Regions from separate parts of the Homo sapiens genome. Here region 1 is linked to region 2. The links come from fine-mapping of genetic effects on plasma protein levels. A gene starts in region 2. The other region holds a variant in brackets. All regions are shown on one strand. Distances are between the middles of the regions.

Region 1 (8,327 bases), 11 kb after region 2:
GGTGTGAGCCACTGCACCTGGCCAGGAGTTGGCATTTAAAGACCCAGCTCACGCCTGGTGCAGCAGCTTACACTTGTAATCCCAGCACTTTGGGAGGCTGAGGTGGGAGGATAAATTGAGTTCAGATGTTCGAGACCGGCCTGGGCAACAAAGAGAGACCTCGTCTCTACTAAAAATAAAAGAAAAAAAATTAGCCGGGTATGGTGGTGAACATCTGTAGTCCAGCTACTCGGGAGGCTGAAATGGGAGGATCACTGAGCCGGGAAGTCAAGGCTGAAATTACCACTTCACTCCAGCCTGGGTGACAGAGCAAGACTCTGTTTCAAAAATAAAATAAAATAAAATAAAATAAAACAAACACCCAGCTCCCTTGAGTCATAGGTGGCATGTGTCTCTGTTCTCCAAACAGAGAACCTGTTTGGAGTTCTCTGTGGGAGGAGGATTAAGCACCTACTGCCAGAGGTGGTCACTGACTTCTACTTTTTCTGTATCACTTCCCCACTCTCCACTGACATTTCCTGGGTTTGTCTCCAAGATCAGCCACTAATACTGGAATATCTGTCTCCGGTTCAAGAGAACTTAAACTAAGACACTCCCAAATAAGTCAACCTTCCTGCAGAGCCCTGCCCTTCATGATTCTCCTGCCTCAGCCTCCCGAGTAGCTGGGACTACAGGTGCACACCACCATGCCTGGCTAATTTTTGTATTTTTAGTAGAGACGGGGTTTCACCATGTTGGTCAGGCTGGTCTCGAGCTCCTGACCTCAAGTGATCCACCCACCTCAGCCTCCCAAAGTGCTGGGATTACAGGCATGAGCCACTGCACTCAGCCAATGTCACCTTACATTTGCTTTCCTTCCTTCTCTATTTGTGTGGGCAGTGCTTTCAGAAGGCCCCCAGAGATCCCCAACCTCCTGGTCTTCATACCCTCTGTAACCCCCTCCCTTAGAGTGTGAGTGAGACCCAGAGACTCACTTCTAAGGGACACAGAACAGTACAACATGAAGAATGGGATGTCACTTCTGAGATTAGGTAACAAAGAGACTGTGGCTTCTTCCGTAACTTCTCTTTCTCGCCTGACCTAATAGAAGACAGTTGCGTCTCCATGGAGAGACCCACGTGGCAAGAAACTGATGTTTCCACCAGCCACCAGCCAGCGAGAACCTGTGGCTTCTGCCAACAGCTGCAGGAGTGAGCCTGAAAGCCTATCCTCCCCCAGCCAAGCCTTGAGATGACTGCAGCCGCAGCCAACGCCTTCATTGCCCAGGGGCCCCAGGCCAAGCAGGGCCAGATCCCTGATCCACAGAGCACAGAGGTGATGAGATAATAGATGTGCATTGTGTGAAGTTGCTAAGGTTTGGGGTGACTTGGTTTTTGTTTTGTTTTTTGTTTGTTTATTTATTAAAAACAGGGTTCCTTATGTTGCTCAGTCTTGTCTGGAACTCCTGAGCTCAAGAGATCTTCCTGCCTCAGCCTCCCAAAGGGCTAGTATTACAGGCGTGAGCCACCATGCCTGGCTTTTGTTCTTTTTGAGACAGGTTCTCACTCTGTCACCCAGGCTGGAGTGCAGTGGCTTGGTCATGGCTCACGGCAGCCTCAACTTCTTGGGCTGTGGTGATTCTCCCACCTCAGTGTCCAGGGTAGCTGGGATGACAGGCACGCACCACTGCACCCAGCTAATTTTTTGTATTTTTAGTACAAATGGGTTTTTGCCATGTTGCCCAGGGTGGTCTTGAACTCCTGGGTTCAAATGATCCTCCCAAAGTGTTGGAATGACAGGCGTGAGTCACCACGCCCAGTCTGGGGTGACTTGTTACCCGGCAGTAGTTAACTAAAACAGCCTCTCACTCCGCCTCACTCTTGCTTCCTTTGAATAGGAACCCCCACAAAACTTTAGCGAGTGACCTTTTGCCTTGGGCTTTGTTTTCTAGGGAAACTGTCCCCAGTCTTCAGCCCTTAGTGACCTCCATATTAAACCAAAGAAACAAAACATCATTTTCAAAGTCAGCAACGATCATCCCTAAGTATGAACCAATTTTTCCCAACTGGGGCTTCTGCTTTAGACCATCTGGGTCCCGCAGAATCATGCCACGAATGTGTTGGGGATTTCGTGCCAGCTCTGCACGCGGGTGACACTGCACACTCTGGGGCTCCCTGCAGCAGCCCAAGGCATACCCCCAGAGAATCGTGAAGCCAAACTCTGGGCTGGAATCTGGCAACACCCGGATTCTGGATTCTCCCACCCGTTTGCAGTGCTCCACCCGTTGTATGACTAAGATGACTTCTTTCCAGTGATAAGGAAATAAAAGGCTTTTGATTTTTCAGCCGTGGAAGAGGTGGGGATGGAGGTGGGCCTGGCTTTCTGTGCCTGTTACTTTTCTTCTCTCTCACTCCTACAGGCTGCTTCTAACCACCCCATGAAATATTAGATCCCCACCTACAGACAAACCCCAAGGCTTGCCAAAGAGGGTCCCTTTTATCTTATCTTAGAATAATATCACCCTGGATACCTCTTGTGACCTCTAGTCACTTGCTGCCCTGATTTCCAACCTTATGGCTGCACAACGTCCTGTTCACCTGGTCAGTCATGAGGTCAGCACACCTGGGGACAGATCTGGCCAGCCAGGACAGAGCTGGTCACTCAACACACATTTTCTGAGCTTCTAAGGAGTGGATTAAAACACATTCGGTGTAGAAATAGATCAGGAGAGCAGCCAACACACACAGACTTGGTAAGTGCACAAAAAAGCTACAGCCCCAGGGGCATGGGGAAGGTGAAGGAGCTCCCTTGGGGCATCTGAAAGATGGGGAATGGGGGTTTAATTGGGGAATGCAGCTAAGAGGTAAGGTGGCAGCTCTCTACGTGAAATAGGCTAGGATACAGACATCAGCGTCAGACCTGGGGATCCAGTCCTGGTTCCGCCACTTAGGCACCTAGTGGCCTTGGGCAAGTGGCATAGCCTCTCGGGCTCAGTTCTGTTCCCTTGTAAGCAAGGACAATGCTATCTACCACCTGGGGATGGTGATCAAAATAAAATCATTTCCATAAAGTTCTCAGCACAGTGCTAGGCATGCTACAAGCAACCAATAAAGACAACTATGATGGCCATCTTGCAGGGACTCAGCACTGCACACTTGTTATGTGTTGACACGTTCTCAGCTCACTTGGGCTCCACAACAATCCTGCAAGGTAGGCAGGGAAGATTTCTACTTTATTCATTCATTTATTTATTTATTTTTTGAGACCGAGTCCCACTCTGTTGCCCAGGCTAGAGTGCAGTGGTGCGATCTTGGTTCACTACAACCTCCGCCTCCCAAGGTCAAGCAATTCTTTTACCTCAGCCTCCCTAGTAGCGGGGATTACAGGCACATGCCACCACACCCAGCTAATTTTTATATTTTTAGTAGAGACAGAGTTTTGCCATGTTGGTAGGGCTGGTCTCAAACTCCTGGCCTCAGGTGATCCACCCACCTTAGCCTCCCAAAGTGCTGGGATTATACGTGTGAGCCACTGCACCCGGCCGGTTTTTAACATTCTTTCTCATTTTACACACAAGGAAAGTAAGGCTGCGAAGAGGTATGCAACTGGTTTGTTTTGGGCTACAGTACTGGTCTCTCAGCCCTTCAAATTTAGAGTTTTCCCCCAGTATACGTTGCATTGAATGGTAATGGCTAACACTGAGTTCAGTGCTTAGCAAACAGGCCATTCATTAAACATAGACAGACTTGCTGCCTGTTATTTCCCTTTTGGGGGCCAGGGAAATTGTGACCTTGGTGGCTCGGTCACTTGCCACTTGCCACGTCCTCAGGGAAGGATGTAGAAGGCATTGAGGGAAACTGACTATACCTCCTTCACCCCCACCTCCCTTCCTCCATCGGTCAAGTTGCCACGGGCACAAGCCCAGGAAGGGCAGGGGGATGTTAACAAACTTCAGACACGAAGAGTCTGAGCATCTATAAACAGCAACGGAAGAAATGAAATTGGCTGCGTCCTCTAAGCCTGTCCCCGCAGCATGCTGGAGGAGGGTCGCGGGGGACATGGAAGAGGAGGAGCTTTGGAGAGAGGATGCTTGTGCTCCCCCGCCTTTTCTTGCTATTTCTATTTGGGGGTTGGATTCCTGGGAGCTTCATCACATTTGGTTCTCAGCTGACTTTATATACTAAAAAATAACTTCCTTTCGCCTGACCATGGAGAGGGACTGCCAGGGGTGAAGGCAGCCCTGTCTGAGGCCAGAGGTCTGCCCACGTGGCGGATGAGGCAGGTGTGAGGCCAGCTTGAGCATCTGGATCCATTTGTCTCGGGCTGCTGGCTGCCTGCCATTTCCTCCTCTCCACCCTTATTTGGAGGCCCTGACAGCTGAGCCACAAACAAACCAGGGGAGCTGGGCACCAGCCAAGCGTCACCCTCTGTTTCCCCGCACGGGTACCAGCGTCGAGGAGAAAGAATCCTGA[G/C]GCACGGCGGTGAGATAACCAAGGACTCTTTTTTACTCTTCTCACACCTTTGAAGTGGGAGCCTCTTGAGTCAAATCAGTAAGAATGCGGCTCTTGCAGCTGAGGGTCTGGGGGGCTGTTGGGGCTGCCCAAGGCAGAGAGGGGCTGTGACAAGCCCTGCGGGATGATAACTTTAAAAGGGCATCTCCTGCTGGCTTCTCACTTGGCAGCTTTATCACTGCAAGTGACAGAATGGGGAGGGTTCTGTCTCTCCTGCGTGCTTGGAGAGCTGGGGGGCTATAAAAAGAGGCGGCACTGGGCAGCTGGGAGACAGGGACAGACGTAGGCCAAGAGAGGGGAACCAGAGAGGAACCAGAGGGGAGAGACAGAGCAGCAAGCAGTGGATTGCTCCTTGACGACGCCAGCATGAGCTCCTTCTCCACCACCACCGTGAGCTTCCTCCTTTTACTGGCATTCCAGCTCCTAGGTCAGACCAGAGCTAATCCCATGTACAATGCCGTGTCCAACGCAGACCTGATGGATTTCAAGGTAGGGCCAGGAAAGCGGGTGCAGTCTGGGGCCAGGGGGCTTTCTGATGCTGTGCTCACTCCTCTTGATTTCCTCCAAGTCAGTGAGGTTTATCCCTTTCCCTGTATTTTCCTTTTCTAAAGAATTTGCTGGACCATTTGGAAGAAAAGATGCCTTTAGAAGATGAGGTCGTGCCCCCACAAGTGCTCAGTGAGCCGAATGAAGAAGCGGGGGCTGCTCTCAGCCCCCTCCCTGAGGTGCCTCCCTGGACCGGGGAAGTCAGCCCAGCCCAGAGAGATGGAGGTGCCCTCGGGCGGGGCCCCTGGGACTCCTCTGATCGATCTGCCCTCCTAAAAAGCAAGCTGAGGGCGCTGCTCACTGCCCCTCGGAGCCTGCGGAGATCCAGCTGCTTCGGGGGCAGGATGGACAGGATTGGAGCCCAGAGCGGACTGGGCTGTAACAGCTTCCGGGTAAGAGGAACTGGGGATGGAAATGGGATGGGATGGACACTACTGGGAGACACCTTCAGCAGGAAAGGGACCAATGCAGAAGCTCATTCCCTCTCAAGTTTCTGCCCCAACACCCAGAGTGCCCCATGGGTGTCAGGACATGCCATCTATTGTCCTTAGCTAGTCTGCTGAGAAAATGCTTAAAAAAAAAAGGGGGGGGGGCTGGGCACAGTGGCTCACGCCTGTAATCCCAGCACTTTGGGAGGCCGAGGCAGGCGGATCATGAGGTCAAGAGATCAAGACTATCCTGGCCAACATGGTGAAACCCCAGCTCTACTAAAAATACAAAAATTAGCTGGGTGTGGTGGCGGGCACCTGTACTCTCAGCTACTTGGGAGGCTGAGGCAGGAGAATCACTTGAACCCAGGAGGCAGAGGTTGCAGTGAGCAGAGATCACGCCACTGCAGTCCAGCCTAGGTGATAGAGCGAGACTGTCTCAAAAAAAAAAAAAAAAGGCCAGGCACGGTGGCTCACGCCTGTAATCCCAGCGCTTTGGGAGGCCAAGGCGGGTGGATCACGAGGTCAGGAGATGGAGACCATCCTGGCTAACACGGTGAAACCCCGTCTCTACTAAAAATACAAAAAATTAGCCAGGCGTGGTGGCAGGCGCCTGTAAGTCCTAGCTACTCCGGAGGCTGAGGCAGGAGAATGGCGTGAACCCGGGAGGCGGAGCTTGCAGTGAGCAGAGATGGCACCACTGCACTCCAGCCTGGGCGACAGAGCAAGACTCCGTCTCAAAAAAAAAAAAAAAAAAAGCAACTGCCACTAGCACTGGGAAATTAAAATATTCATAGAGCCAAGTTATCTTTGCATGGCTGATTAGCAGTTCATATTCCTCCCCAGAATTGCAAGATCCTGAAGGGCTTAAGTGAAATTTACTCTGATGAGTAACTTGCTTATCAATTCATGAAGCTCAGAGGGTCATCAGGCTGGGGTGGGGGCCGGTGGGAAGCAGGTGGTCAGTAATCAAGTTCAGAGGATGGGCACACTCATACATGAAGCTGACTTTTCCAGGACAGCCAGGTCACCAAGCCAGATATGTCTGTGTTCTCTTTGCAGTACTGAAGATAACAGCCAGGGAGGACAAGCAGGGCTGGGCCTAGGGACAGACTGCAAGAGGCTCCTGTCCCCTGGGGTCTCTGCTGCATTTGTGTCATCTTGTTGCCATGGAGTTGTGATCATCCCATCTAAGCTGCAGCTTCCTGTCAACACTTCTCACATCTTATGCTAACTGTAGATAAAGTGGTTTGATGGTGACTTCCTCGCCTCTCCCACCCCATGCATTAAATTTTAAGGTAGAACCTCACCTGTTACTGAAAGTGGTTTGAAAGTGAATAAACTTCAGCACCATGGACAGAAGACAAATGCCTGCGTTGGTGTGCTTTCTTTCTTCTTGGGAAGAGAATTCAGGCCGATATTCCTTGTCGTTTTACTCTTTGTCAGAGGAAAGAATGCTGAGTTTTTCTTCTTCCTTTCATTTCACCCTCCTTTTTTGGTAGGTGGTTGGGGAGGCCTCAAATTCCACTCCTAGTGGGGTTTTTGTTGTTTTTAGGGGGGAACATTCAGAAAATGAGAGTATTAATTAGATTTTCTCTGGTACATTTCGAGAGAGTTAGGTTCTACAGCTAAGGTAATGGTACTTTTAGTTTTGAAAAGAGTAGGCAGAGTGTTGAATTTAAAAGCTGAGCAGGCCGGGTGTGGTGGCTCACTCCTGTAATCCCAGCATTTTGGGAGGCCAAGGTGGGCAAATCACTTGAGCCCAGGAGTTCAAGACCAGCCTGAGCAATAGAGTGAGACCCCATCTCTACAAAAAATTTAAAAATTAGCCAGGCATGATGATGTGCACCTGTAGTTCCAGCTATTCAGGAGGCCGAAGTGGGAGGATGGCTTGAGCCTGGGAGGTGGAGGCTGCAGTGAGCTGGTATTGTGCCACTGCATTCCAGCCTGGGTGACAGAATGAGACTTGTCTCAAAAAAATAAAAACTGAGCAAAGTGAAGAAAGGTTTGCCATGCAGACAAACTACAAGTTCATGTGCCTTTTGTGTACTAACAAGTATTTGGAAAACAGACATAGTCTTTGCCTAATCCGGGTCTGAAGGGCCTGGGCTTGTATTTTACTAAGAGCTGCTGGAGAAGATGCCGGCTTTTTGTATCTGCTCCTGAAGAGGGTATTTGCTCTGAGCACAAAACACCAGGCAATAAGTTCACCTTAAACAGAGTAAACTGTTTTCCCACCTGTTACCCCCATGGATCCCAACCTCATCAGATTCTATGACACTCCAACACCCCACACCCACACATGCCACTGTGCCTTTATTTCTGCTGTTCCTTCCACCTGGGGTGTCCTTCCTCTGGTCCTCCCGAGGACATTGTACTGATTTCTTAAGGCTCATATGAACACTACTTCTTTCCTGGTACCTCATGCCTAGTAACAATGAGTCCCTTCGTAGGCAGTGTTGCACATGTAACTGTTATAATAGCACACAACACGAGTTGCCTATGTGCAATTGCTTGTGTCTACGTCCCTAGACTGCAAGCTCTTTGAGGGCAAATGCCCCTTCAGCACTCTCAGAGTTGATGCCCCATAAATGTTGGTCAAATTGCCTTGGTCTTGTCCAGAAATTGGGAAAAGAGGAAATGAAGTAGTAACTTGCTCCTTGCGGAGGAAAGGGGGAGGCTCCCAGTGAACTAATGGCAGGGGGTTGAGGTGGGGGGAGAGCCTCACCTAACCACCTCCAGTCAAAATCTTCTCTACCTGGACTTTAAATACCAGGAAAACCAGGGGGTAGAGAATGACAAGGATGAAAGTAAGAGCGACAGGAGACAGCACTGGCCCAAACCTGGCTCCTGAGGTCTGGGA
Region 2 (8,327 bases):
CACTCTACACAAAGGGAAACCATCCTAGAACAGAGAAGCAAACCGAGCAGAATCTTCGGAACAGGCCGGGCACGGTGACTCACATCTGTAATCCCAGCAATTTGGGGGGCAGAGGCAGGCGGATCACCTGAGGTCAGGAGTTCGAGACCAGCCTGACCAACATGGTGAAACCCCATCTCTACTAAAAATAAAAAATTAGTTGGGTGTGGTGGCACGTGCCTCTAGTCCCAGCTACTCAGGAGGCTGAGACAGGAGAATCACTTGAACCCAGGAGGCGGAGGTTGCAGTGAGCTGAGATCGCACCACTGCATTCCAGCCTGGGTGAAAGAGGAAGACTGCATCTCAAAAAAATTAAAAAAAAAAAAAAAGAATCCCTGGAACAGAGCCACACCGTGAGTCAGCCACGGGCAGAGACGAGCCTGCCTCCTGCCTCCTGGGTCAGTGCTCCTCTGTTTCCTCCTTTGCTTCCCCCAGGTGCCCAGTGCTCTCATACCATCCACTTTGGCTGCCCAGGACTAGACTGGAGATTGAGGCCAGAGGGAAGCTACAGAAAAATCTTGCAGCTGGAGTCCTACTCTCTGACTAGTCAAACCTTGTATTCTGCACAGCTTCTTCCTTCTGCAGAGAGCATAGGGGTGGTAGCTGATCCATTAACCAGCCCTTCTAGCCTCTGCTTGTGCATCTGCTCTGCCCAGAGTGCCCTCCCCATCTTCCATCTTCCTTCTTGTGGCTAACTCATTCTTATCCTTCAAAGCCTTAGCCCAGCCCCACCTTCTCCAACAAACTCCCTTCTCGACTGCGCACTCCTGCTGTGCTCACAGAGCATCCAGGACTCACTGCCACTGTATCTGTCACTCACTGTGGCAGCCTGGGGAGCCTGTGATTGTGCCCACCTTTCCCCCTGCACTGTAAGCTTCTCAATGGCAGGGACTTTCTTGTCCGTTATGTATCCCCACCTTCCAGCAGAAATATTAGATTTTAACCTGCACAGTCTCATTTTATGCTCACAACAACCCTATGAGGTAGCCATGAGAAAACAAGGAGAGAGAGGAAGCAACTTGCCCAACACACAAAGGTAGCAAGAAGTTGATGTGAAATTGAGCCCAGACTGTGATTTCAGTCTTGGGTCTGGGCTACTGTGACCCCAGGGTCTCGGTGAAAGTTTGTTGAATGACTTAAGGGTCTTATTTCTTTCTGTGTGGCCAGATTAAGCACTTAGAGTTGGATGGTGGTGGGGAACCAATACTTCTACCATAACAACATTTGCTGAGGGCTTACTATGGGAGAGACACTATGCTTGGCATTTGACATATACTCTATTAATTTCCCATTGCTGCTGAAACAAAGTCTCACAAGCTTGTTGGCTTAAAAGAACATGATTTTATTTTCTTACAGTTCCAGACATCAGAAGTCTGAAATCTGTTTCACTGGGCTAAAACTAAGGTATTGGCAGGCCCATATTCCTTCTGGAAGCTCTAGGGAAAAATCCATTTCTTTGCCCTTTCCAACTTCTAGAGGCTGATTACATTCCTTGGCTCATGGCCCCTTCCTCTATCTTCAAAGCCAGCAGTGTAGTCTCTTCTCTCCTCTCTGACCTGTTCCCATCCTTACATTTTGTCCCTCTGACCTTGATCCTCTGGCTTCCCTCTTATAAGGACCCTTGTGATGACATTGAGCCTTCCTGAATAATCCAGGAGAATCTCTCCACCTTGAGGTCCTTAACTTAACCACACCTGCAAAGTCCTTTTTACCATGTAAAGTAGTATATTCGCAGATTCTGGGGATTAGAATATGGACATCTTTTGGGGACTATTATTCAGCTTACCACAGACATCATCAAATTTAATCCTTGTACATTAATGCTCCAACAGAGGTGTTATGATTAGCTTCATTAAATAGACTTGGAAAGCACATAGCATATGACAGGCCCTCGATAAATGTTGATGGGGCTGATCTGGTGTGAGAGTTAGTTGACAACATATCCTCCTCCCTGGACAGCAGGCCTTGGAGGATGTGTCTAGTTCTGTGTCTTCCTCAAGTCTTCTTCCACAGTCCCCTCCACTGGGGACAGATAGAAACTCTGTCAGAGTGTATGACACTTAGACACTTAATTGTCTCACTTGGGGTCACTTTGTCTCCCCAGTGAGATCACAATCTCCTTCAGTGTAAAGACCAACTCTCATGTACTACTAATTATTTGGCCCTTTATACAGTGCCACGGGCTTTTGCAGATATTATTTTTTTCCTTTTAGTCCTTGCAAGGACTGTCCATTTTGCCGAAGAGCAAAGTGAGGCTCTGGCGAGATGCAGAGTCAGTTTTTGATGGTGCTGGTTGATGAATCCTGCCTTGCTCTGAACCCTTTATCTCATGGTACTCAGCATGAGGGGCTTTCTGCACCCTCAGCAGCCTCTCGCCCACTGACTCCCCTCTGCACTTGGCTGAATTTTCTTACCTCTTTAGCTTCCTCTTAGCCTTTTGATACTCTTACTGTGGCATGCTCATGTGCACGCACACACACACACACACACACACACACACACACAAAACTACCCCAGCCCCCCAGAACATTTCCAGCACTGGTGTCTTTACACAGCCCTTACCCACCCACCTCCATTTATATTTCATCTGCAAAATGCTCATCTGAGCCACTTCCCATTCTTTCTCCTGCACACACAGTCACCACTAGAATTGCACATCCCCCACAGCACAGCTCCCAGAGCCTTCATAGATGACACGGGATTCACCTAAGCTTGCTTTTTGTAGAAACACCTTGTGATCACCCTGGCAGTGATTATGAGCTTCAGGTCTGGAATCAGACTGCTGGCTAGACTAATCAGACTGGTTAGAATCCAGGATTTATCATGTGTCAATTGTGTGACTTTTGGAAAGTAGATTAATTCATGAACACCATTTCCTCCTCTGAAGTGAGGAATAATAACCGTGCTTTTCTCACCTCAGGGGCAGATGCTATTTTTTAGGCAAGATCTGCTTAGAGGTCCCAGTTTCTTATTGCTGCCCTTCTCTGCTGTAACTCTTCTCCCCTCATAGACAGCTCCACTCCTCCAGCCTGCTGCTTGTTGACACCAATTCTCTGGAAGGGGAGTGACATCAGTCATATATGCTTTAGGGGGGTATTTAAGCTGCTATGACTCTTCTCAGGGGCATTTCTCTCCAAAGTCTCACTTCTAATCACCAGGCCACCTGCTAATGATAATTAGATCATGGGTGGTCAGATGAAGGAGGCACTGGGAGAGGGGAAATCCCCATATCTCTGGTATCCCAGCAAATAGATAACCATCATTCCAGCCATCCTTTTGTTTTCTTTCTTTCTTTCTTTCTTTCTTTCCTTCTTTCTTTCTTTCTTTTTTCGCTCTCTGTCAACCAGGCTGGAGTGCAGTGGCGTGATCTCAGCTCACTGCAACCTCCACCTCCTGGGTTCAAGTGATTCTCCTTCCTCAGCCTCCCGAGTAGCTGGGACTACAGGCGCCTGCCACCATGCCCAGCTAATTTTTGGTAATTTTAGTAGAGACGGGGTTTCACCGTGGTCTCGATCTCCTGACCTCGTGATCCGACCGCCTCGGCCTCTCAAAGTGCTGGGATTACAGGCGTGAACCACCATGCCCAGCCTATCCTTTTGTTTTCCATCCTGTGTTGGCTTGGTGGGGGAGAGGAGGTGTTGACACGTGGAGGACACACATATAAGGCATTCTTGGGTGACTTCGTCATCACTGGACCCTATCTCTCAAAATTCCAGCGAAATCTGCTCTTCCCTTTAAGGAGTGAAAGAAGGGTCAGCATTCCAGAAGTTCCTGGTCATACCCAGGCTTTTAATGAATTGCCACTGGGGAATCAGCATCCCGTTGCTGTAAGGACTATAAGATGGCGGATTGTGAGAGCATAGGGAAAGGTCTCGGAGGTCTCTTGTCCTTGCTCCACGCAGGTCTTTCTGGCCTGAAAATCCCGTTGAAGAGAGCAGCTCTTGAGAGTTTGCTCCAAGTTCCCTCGGGGTGATCAGCACCACGGACAGCGGCCAGGGCGCCCCCGAGGACCCGCAGGCAGGCAGGGTGCACAGCGGCGAGCAGGTGCTGCGCTACGTGCGGGCCAGGGAACTCGCGCGGGGAGGGGAGAGGCGCCGCGGGTGGCGGGGTCTTGGCCGGGGCTGTTTTCGCTGTGAGTCACCCCGTGCTCCCCGCGCTCACGTCGGTCCTCGGAAAGCCGGGGTCCTCCCTGCCTTTTCCAGCAACGGTGGGGTGGGGAGGCAGGAAGAAAGCGCCAACCTAGGACACCTGGACATTTGCAGGAAAGGAAGAAGCGGGAGACGGGGACTTGTCTGTGTCTCCAGCGCGTTCCTGCCCCCCGGCCCGACCCGGCCCATTTCTATACAAGGTCGGCTCTGCCCGGTCTCCACCTCCCACGTCGCAGGCGCGGAGGGGCTCATTCCCGGGCCCTGATCTCAGAGGCCCGGAATGTGGCTGATAAATCAGAGATAACCCTGCATGGCAGGGCAGGCCCGACACTCAGCTCCAGGATAAAAGGCCACGGTGTCCCGAGGAGCCAGGAGGAGCACCCCGCAGGCTGAGGGCAGGTGGGAAGCAAACCCGGACGCATCGCAGCAGCAGCAGCAGCAGCAGAAGCAGCAGCAGCAGCCTCCGCAGTCCCTCCAGAGACATGGATCCCCAGACAGCACCTTCCCGGGCGCTCCTGCTCCTGCTCTTCTTGCATCTGGCTTTCCTGGGAGGTCGTTCCCACCCGCTGGGCAGCCCCGGTTCAGCCTCGGACTTGGAAACGTCCGGGTTACAGGTGAGAGCGGAGGGCAGCTCAGGGGGATTGGACAGCAGCAATGAAAGGGTCCTCACCTGCTGTCCCAAGAGGCCCTCATCTTTCCTTTGGAATTAGTGATAAAGGAATCAGAAAATGGAGAGACTGGGTGCCCTGACCCTGTACCCAAGGCAGTCGGTTCACTTGGGTGCCATGAAGGGCTGGTGAGCCCAGGGGTGGGTCCCTGAGGCTTGGACGCCCCCATTCATTGCAGGAGCAGCGCAACCATTTGCAGGGCAAACTGTCGGAGCTGCAGGTGGAGCAGACATCCCTGGAGCCCCTCCAGGAGAGCCCCCGTCCCACAGGTGTCTGGAAGTCCCGGGAGGTAGCCACCGAGGGCATCCGTGGGCACCGCAAAATGGTCCTCTACACCCTGCGGGCACCACGAAGCCCCAAGATGGTGCAAGGGTCTGGCTGCTTTGGGAGGAAGATGGACCGGATCAGCTCCTCCAGTGGCCTGGGCTGCAAAGGTAAGCACCCCCTGCCACCCCGGCCGCCTTCCCCCATTCCAGTGTGTGACACTGTTAGAGTCACTTTGGGGTTTGTTGTCTCTGGGAACCACACTCTTTGAGAAAAGGTCACCTGGACATCGCTTCCTCTTGTTAACAGCCTTCAGGGCCAAGGGGTGCCTTTGTGGAATTAGTAAATGTGGGCTTATTTCATTACCATGCCCACAATACCTTCTCCCCACCTCCTACTTCTTATCAAAGGGGCAGAATCTCCTTTGGGGGTCTGTTTATCATTTGGCAGCCCCCCAGTGGTGCAGAAAGAGAACCAAACATTTCCTCCTGGTTTCCTCTAAACTGTCTATAGTCTCAAAGGCAGAGAGCAGGATCACCAGAGCAATGATAATCCCCAATTTACAGATGAGGAAACTGAGGCTCAGAGAGTTGCATTAAGCCTCAAACGTCTGATGACTAACAGGGTGGTGGGTGGCACACGATGAGGTAAGCTCAGCCCCTGCCTCCATCTCCCACCCTAACCATCATCACCCTCTCTCTTTCCCTGACAGTGCTGAGGCGGCATTAAGAGGAAGTCCTGGCTGCAGACACCTGCTTCTGATTCCACAAGGGGCTTTTTCCTCAACCCTGTGGCCGCCTTTGAAGTGACTCATTTTTTTAATGTATTTATGTATTTATTTGATTGTTTTATATAAGATGGTTTCTTACCTTTGAGCACAAAATTTCCACGGTGAAATAAAGTCAACATTATAAGCTTTATCTTTTGAAACTGATTTGTCTTGGCGCATTAAAAATAATCCCTCATTTCAAAGAAACCAACCCAACTAAAACCACAAAGCCCTGTGATCTCAAGGCATCTTCATGGTGGGATGAGGATGTGGCCTCAGAGGTAGCAGGCTTTCTTTTCTTTCAGAGTTTTTAATGCTCTGAAATGTTATTGAATATCTCAAGCACTTGAGGCACTTGGGAGAAACTGCTTTTCAAAGCAGGGCAGGATACGTGTGCAACCTGAGGGCACGTATCCAGCCGTTTTCTCCACTCGTCCTTGCTCTGCCTGGAATTCCACCATTAAAGCACTCTCCCTGGGGATTATTGCTTTCAGGTCTCAGCTAAAATGTCAACGACTGGGGGCAGTGTGTGTGGGTGTGGCTCATCTACATTCCCATACCGGGGTGAGCCCTCCATCCTGCCCCAAATATCAGCTTTGAAACTCCAATTCCTGGGGTCATCCTGCAAAGGAGCCTTCAAAACTCCAACCCACAAAGTGAGAGGGGTCTGGCAATCAGCCCAGCTTTCCAGGGTGCCCCTCCCCTGGGGCTGCATCATCTCTTCTCTTTGCCTTAACCAGTGGGGAGGCTGTCTCTCCTATGGGTCCCCTTCCCACACACCCTGCAATCCAGGCCTCCGCAGTGCTGAGTTCCTCTCCTTTCAGATTCCTGGGAAGGGCCTCATGTCATTCGCTTTCTCACAATGCCATTTATAATTCCAGCTCAGCTGAGGGGTAAGGCACCATGAGGTCCACTATTATTATGTCCATTTTCCAAATGGGAAAACTGAGACCCGGGAAAACTGAGACCCTGGAAAACCAAGCGTCCTATCCAAGAGCACACAGCGACTAAGCGCTGGTGTGGGAACTGAGCGGAGATCCAGGTGACTCTTGAGCCTGTGCTCTCTGACTCTTGAGCCCCACACTCCTGCCCTTGAACTTCACTCTCAAGTCTTTTCTGATGTTCTCATCAGATGTTTCTTTGAATGAGAGTGACCTAGAGGGTGGAACTTTGTGTTATTTATCATTTTCACCCAGTGTGCATCTGAGGATTTATGGATATCTAATGACATCAATTAAGATTGTTTAGACTGGGTGCGGTGGCTCACACCTGTAATCCCAGCACTTTGGAAGGCCGAGGCCAGAGGATCACCTGAGGTCAGGAGTTCGAGACCAGCCTGGCCAACATGGTGAAATCCCCTTTCTACTAAAAATACAAAAATTAGCCGGGCATGGTGGTGTGTGCCTGTAATTCCAGCTATTCAGGAGGCTGAGGCAGGGGAATCGCTTGAATCTGAGAGGTGGAGGTTGCAGTGAGCTAAGATTGCACCACTGCATTCCAGCCTGGGTAACAAGAGTGAAACTCCATAATCTCAAAAAAAAAAAATTGTTCAAAAACGAGGTTTTAGGCCAGGGACAGTGGCTCACACTGTAATCCCAGCACTTTGAAAGGCCGAGGCAGAAGGACGGCTTGAGCCCAGGAGTTCAAGACCAACCTGGGCAACATAATGGGACCCCCATATCTTCAAGAAATGAAAATGAAAAAAATTATCTGGGTGTAGTGGTGCATGCCTGTGGTCCCAGCTACTCAGGAGGCTGAGGTGGGAGGATCGCTTAAGCCTGGAAGCGGGGAGGCTGCAGTGAGCTGTGATTGTGCCACTGTACTCCAGCTTGGGTGACAGAGGGAGACCCCATCTCAAAAAACAAACGAACAAAAAAAGAGAATAAAAGAAATAAAAAAGAGGTTTTAGGGGCAGCTTATTTTTCCACCAACTGTGAGTCATGTCTAATGCTTCCAAACCGGGGAGAGCAATGAGTAATTAGAATAGTTAATATTCATAAAGGCCTCATTCATGTACCAGGCACAGTCATATAGACCTCACAACAATGAAGGAGTTAAATTTCTTTTTTTTTTTTTTTTTGAGACAGGTCTCACTCTGTCATCCAGGTTGAAGTGCAGCGGTGCAATCTCGGCTCACTGCAACCTCTGACTCCCGGGTTCAAGCGATTCTCTCGCCTCAACCTCCTGAGTAGCTGGGAGTACAGACATGCACCACCACCCTCAGCTAATTTTTGTATTTTTTGTAGAGATGGGGTTTCATCATGTTGGCCAGGCTGGTCTCGAACTCCTGGCCTCAAGTGATCCACCCGCCTCGGCCTCCCAAAGTGCTGGGATTACAGGCTTGAGCCACTGCTCCTGGCCTGGAGTTAAAACTCTTACATCCCTCTTTTTACAGATGGGGAAACCAAGGCACAGAGATATATAACTTGTCAATGTCAT

Which allele goes with the higher level. Alleles are on the strand shown, and positions count from the first base shown. The strength of an association depends on the size of the effect and on how common the allele is.
As copies of C replace G in region 1, the plasma level of the protein whose gene starts at base 4,558 in region 2 goes up (weak association).

What was found. PIP is the chance, under the fine-mapping model, that this variant and not a neighbour inherited with it causes the effect. The UK Biobank Pharma Proteomics Project read protein levels with antibody pairs (Olink). The fine-mapping took linkage between variants from a reference panel, not from the people measured, so its PIPs are less certain.
Region 1: its variant is fine-mapped to the plasma level of the NPPB protein (UK Biobank, PIP above 0.99).

The regions. Positions count from the first base shown.
Region 1 is chr1:11,844,214-11,852,540 of GRCh38, reverse strand. It overlaps NPPA (natriuretic peptide A), which reads left to right and starts at 4,758. Exons shown (of 3, transcript NM_006172.4): 1 at 4,758-4,979; 2 at 5,102-5,428; 3 at 6,527-6,832. The coding sequence starts at 4,857. The coding sequence ends at 6,532. It also overlaps NPPA-AS1. RefSeq lists an enhancer at 3,932-5,722. The variant G/C (reference allele first, on the strand shown) is at 4,452.
Region 2 is chr1:11,855,176-11,863,502 of GRCh38, reverse strand. It overlaps NPPB (natriuretic peptide B), which reads left to right and starts at 4,558. Exons shown (of 3, transcript NM_002521.3): 1 at 4,558-4,801; 2 at 5,034-5,289; 3 at 5,832-6,039. The coding sequence starts at 4,670. The coding sequence ends at 5,848. RefSeq lists a silencer at 3,993-4,159.